Linked DNA regions of Homo sapiens: region 2 is linked to region 1. Evidence: fine-mapped expression QTL. A gene starts in region 1. The other region holds a variant in brackets. All regions are shown on one strand. Distances are between the middles of the regions.

What was found.
Region 2: its variant is fine-mapped to the expression of FBXO31 in subcutaneous fat (FUSION, PIP 0.91).

The regions. Positions count from the first base shown.
Region 1 is chr16:87,382,394-87,384,893 of GRCh38, reverse strand. FBXO31 (F-box protein 31) reads left to right here and starts at 1,118. Exons shown (of 9, transcript NM_024735.5): 1 at 1,118-1,489. The coding sequence starts at 1,150. TRM-CAT6-1 (tRNA-Met (anticodon CAT) 6-1) reads left to right here and starts at 800; the gene lies at 800-872. LOC124903747 (a long non-coding RNA gene) reads right to left here and starts at 961. Exons shown (of 2, transcript XR_007065168.1): 1 at 698-961. RefSeq lists enhancers at 10-661, 662-1,315 and silencers at 723-1,382, 1,523-1,762.
Region 2 is chr16:87,337,692-87,340,191 of GRCh38, reverse strand. The region is part of intron 5 of FBXO31 (F-box protein 31); the gene reads left to right. Among named protein-coding and RNA genes, the nearest start is that of C16orf95-DT, 21 kb to the right of the region's middle. The variant A/C (reference allele first, on the strand shown) is at 1,187.

The sequences.
Region 1 (2,500 bases):
CATTTGTGGCTATTTTTGTTTTTTGTTTGTTTTGGAGACAGGGTCACGCTGTGTTGCCCAGGCTGAAGTGCAGTGGCACCATCACGGGTCACTACAGCCTCGGCCTCCTGGGATCAAGCGATCCTCCCGTCTCAGCTTCTCTTTCTAAAATTTTGTTTTGTAGACAGGGTCTCGCTGTATTGCCCAGGCCGGTCTCGAGCTCCTGGCCTCGATTGATACTCCCGCCTGGGCCTCCAAGAGATGGGGTCCGAGGCGAGCCCACGGCGACGTGCGCGGCTGCTCAGGTGAGAGGACGCCTTCGCGGTCACCACCCGCGGACCTGGGAGACGACCCCGCTCAGCGGCCTCGGCGGAGCCCAGCTGGAGCAGGCGTGCGCGGCTCCCAGCAGCTGCAGGAACAGGCGCCCTTTGGGCGGCGCCGCATGGCAGGGCCTCCCTTTCCAGACCGGGCGCGCATCCCCGGATCTCTTGGGCCGCGCCGGCCGCCGCCCCTCCAAGCCCTCCCCGGGGCTTCCGCAGGGAGCTCGGGATCCCCGAAGGTCCCTGCAGAGCTCCGCAGCTCGGGCCTTTTGGTTACCATAAGGCGGAGACGATGGAACGCGCGTTGTTTCAATGGACAAAAGGGCTTCTAGGCGCCCTTTGGGGTTCTGGCTGCTGCCTCTGTATTTGGAGGCTGTAAGGCGCATCTTTCTACTCACCGGCCGGCGCGGCACAGTTTCGGGCGCCGGAAGCGGGACGCACGGGCGCGAGGGGCGACCCCTATCTCCACAAAAGCCGCGGCGCGAAGTGGTCGCCGAGCAGCCTCGTTAGCGCAGTAGGCAGCGCGTCAGTCTCATAATCTGAAGGTCGTGAGTTCGAGCCTCACACGGGGCAGTCTAACGTTTTGCACTCGGCATCACCACTTTCTTTTCTCATGCCCGTCACGGGCGGCGCCCTCACGCTGGAGGGGAGGGCAGCAGTGCGGGGTCTCTGAGGTCGCCGCCCCGCGGGGAGGGGGTGGCGCGGCCGGGGCGGAGCTCTACGTAGGGGCGGGGCTAGGCTCTCCAGGGGGCGTGGCGAGCTCTGCGGCGGGGGCGTGGCTCGGCGCTGGCGGGGCGGGGCCGCGCTGGAGCGTGCGCACAGGCGGCAGCAGTGGCCGTCACTGGGCGGCATGGCGGTGTGTGCTCGCCTTTGCGGCGTGGGCCCGTCGCGCGGATGTCGGCGCCGCCAGCAGCGCCGGGGCCCGGCCGAGACGGCGGCGGCCGACAGCGAGCCGGACACAGACCCCGAGGAGGAGCGCATCGAGGCTAGCGCCGGGGTCGGGGGCGGCTTGTGCGCGGGCCCCTCGCCGCCGCCCCCGCGCTGCTCGCTGCTGGAGCTGCCGCCCGAGCTGCTGGTGGAGATCTTCGCGTCGCTGCCGGGCACGGACCTACCCAGCTTGGCCCAGGTCTGCACGAAGTTCCGGCGCATCCTCCACACCGACACCATCTGGAGGAGGCGTTGCCGTGAGGGTGAGCGCGCGGGGGTGGCGGGGCCGGGAGGGGCGGGGGGTCCCTGCCAGGTGGAGGCCTCGGAGCTGGGAGTGGCGGGGGCGGTGGCCCCGGCCGGGGGCCACCAGTTGGGCGCGGGGCCCGGCGATGTGGTGTTTTGGGTGTGGGTGGGGAGCGGCCGCGGTGACACCACGTTGAGGGGGCCAGGGAGGTATTTGAGGCGGTTAGGGAGGGTCCGAGGGGTCCAAGAGAGGCAGACGGGGTAGGGAGGGGTTGAGGGCGTCAGGGAGGCATCGAAGAGGCCCTGACGCGGGGCACGGGACACCACGGGGCCGAGGCCGTGCCGGGAGCTGGGGCTGGGATCCCTCGAGGTCTGCGCGGGGCCTAAGCTGACGCCTGGGGGCCGCCTCCTCTGCCCCTGTCTTGAAGGCGAGCCGAGGGTGCCCCGCTGGCCCTGACCAGAGACGAGGTGAACTTGAAGAAATGGGAGCAGGCCGGGCGCGGTTTCACGCCTGTAATCTCAGCACTTAGGGAGGCCGAGGCGGGCGGGTCACCTGAGGTCAGGAGTTCGAGACCAGCCTGGTGAAGATGGTAAAACCCCGTCTCTACTTACAAAAATACAAAAATTAGCCGGGCGTGGTAGCGGGCGCCTGTAATCCCAGCTACTCGGGAGGGTGAGGCAGAAGAATGGCTTGAACCCGGGAGGCGGAGGTTGCACTGAGCCAACATCTGGGCCATTGCACTCCACCCTAGGCGACAGAGTGCGACTTGGTCTCAAACAACAGCAACAAAAAAAATTACGGGAGTAGGGGAAGCCCAGTGTCGGGGGCTCCTGATGGTGGGGGCGTAGAGAGACGGATGGATCACAGCGGTGCGGGCTGGACTTTTGCCTTCAGCAATATTGGATGTAACAGATCACAGGAGGAGATGTTTATTTAATCTGGAGTTCAAGGCTCTCTCTGTTTAAAGGTTGACAGCTCTTTGATGTTCAAGCAGCTCATATTTAGGTAAAAAGGACAGGTTAGAAAACAT
Region 2 (2,500 bases), 45 kb after region 1:
CCTCAGCCTCACTCCCAAGTAGCTGGTATTACAGGCGCCTGCCACCATGCCTGCCTAATTTTTATATTTTTAGCGGAGACAGGTTTTCCCCATGTTGGCCAGGTTGGTCTCGAACTCCTGACCTCAGGTGATCCGCCCACCTCGGCCTCCCAAAGTGCTGGGATTACAGGCGCGAGCCACCGCGCCCGGCCGAATTCTTGTAGTTTTATCGCTATGTTTTATTTTATTTATGGCTTAGAGATAGGGTCTCACTGTGTTGCCCAGGCTGGGCTCAAGTGATCCTCCTACCTCAGCCTCCCAAAGTGTTGGGATTATAGCTGTGAGCCATTGCACTGGCCTATCACTGTATTTTAATTGCCTGTATTCCTCTTCTATTTTGGAATGTTCCCGGCTCATCTTGTTTATTTGCTGTGTGAACTCTAGAAGCAGCTATTTCCCAGAAACATCCCCTTGCTGTCTCTTCTTGCAATTGGAATAGCAGCACGCTTACGGTCAGTGTATGGGGTGCTGCCGTTTGTGTGATGTCCACACCCCCATCCGACATACTCCCTCGGCTCGTCCCGCTTCTGAGCTCCCCCTCCGGGAGTTGACAGGGTGAGGGTGCCACTGTCCCAGGTAGGGCAGAGGCTGGGGCTGCTGACGGTGCTGTACCACCTATCCTCGAGTGAGAGCAGCCTCTCCTCTTCTGCAGGGGCTGCACTGGCTGCGCCCTCCTGTGGGGCTTGTCACCTGCTCCCACAGTCACTTCGTTCATCTTGAGGCCTGCAGTGTCCTCGCTGCTTTTCTCTCACGACGTGTAGGGGTTCAGAGGGTGGGGCTGTCTGTGGATTCATGCATCAGCTGGGAGCTCCTCTCCACTAAAGGCCAGAGAGCAGGTAGGTCACCAGGAGAGCTGCATTCCAGGAAGAGGACATCCCAGGAGGTCTGGACATGGTGACACATCCTGATAATTTTCACAACTGAGGTGAAAGATCAGGGACAGGAATTCGGTACTGCCCTGAGCTCTGCTGGCTGAGAACTTCTGGATCAGCACTGTATTAGTCCATTTTCACGCTGCTGATAAAGACATACCCAAGACTGGGTAATTTATAAGGGAAAGAGGTTGCATGGACTCACAGTTCCATGTGGCTGGGGAGGCCTCAAATCATGGTGGAAGGCGAAAGGCGCATCTTACATGGCGGCAGGC[A/C]AAAAAAGAGAGAACTTGTGCAGGGGAACTCCCCTTTATAAAACCATTGCATCTCGTGAGACTTATTCACTATCATGAGAGCAGCATGGAAAAGACCCCACCCCCATGATTCAGTTACCTCCTGGGGTCCCTCCCATGACATGGGAATTGGAAGAGCTACAGTTCAAGATGAGATTTGGGTGGGGACACAGCCAAACCACATCAAGCAGGTTCCAAGGGAGTGGAGTCCTGTCTGCCCAGGGAGGTTGGAGGGGCCAGGCTCTGGACAGGGGAGGCTTCGAGGGCAATGCAGTCTCTTTGGCATCCCTGCATCTCTGTGTGGGTCACCCCCACCCCGGGAGGCCATTCCTTGTACCCAGGCTGCGTCACTGGCATGATCTGATGATGTTCCCAGGGTTGTGGGTTCCCTCAGCCGTGGGTCCTTGTGAGAAATGGGACGCTCGGGCCCACCCAGACCTGGCCTTTTCTGTATGGGTGCCGGGCCAGGGCAAGCCACCATGTCCCTTCCCACCCCTGTGTGTTTCAGGCCCGCCTCCCCCGCCCCAAGACTGAGGCTTTTGGAAATCTCAGACCTGTGAAAGGAGCAGAGAAGGGAGGATGGGCCATGCTCCTGTTTCAAGCAGCCAGCAGGCATCCTTGTCACCCTCAGCCCCCTCTGCCGGCGCTGCCACGAGGGTCGCGAGTACAATGTGTTGAGTGAGCAGGCCCTGGGTCAACGTGAAGTTGATCGTTGTCGTGCATGTCCTGGGCTCCCTGTTTTTTTTTTTTTCTTGTGGCTTGTATGTGTTGCTCTGATGAGTAATTTCATAATAAACATGCTTGGGACGGCCTTATTCTGGGTAACAGGGTCTGGTTGGTGGTCCCGTTGCTTGGACCTCTTTATGTAAAGCGAGGTCATGGCTACACATGCTCATCTTCCTGATGGTGTCAAGTTGAAGTCGCAGTACTCACAGCGGTAACATTGAAATCTTTGTTCATTACATTCAGTTACTTTTGTTTCTATCTGTTATTTAAAGAGCCTTTCCTCAAGTTCAGCCACTCAGGTTTTAATTTTGATGAGGTCCAATTTGTGAAACTTTTTGTTTTCTTTTATGGTTATTTTCTGAATCCTAAAAAAGTCCTAAAAATTGAGTCCTAAAATACTCAGTTTGCAAAGATAGGCTCCATTTTTTTTTTTTTTAATAGAAGTTTGGTAGCATCACATCAGGTTCTGCATTTGTGTGGAGGCCTGTGCCCCATCTTGAATGATCTTGTGTGTGGCATAAGGCGGGGTCGTGGTTCCTTCTTCTCCATATGAAAACCCAACTGACGGAG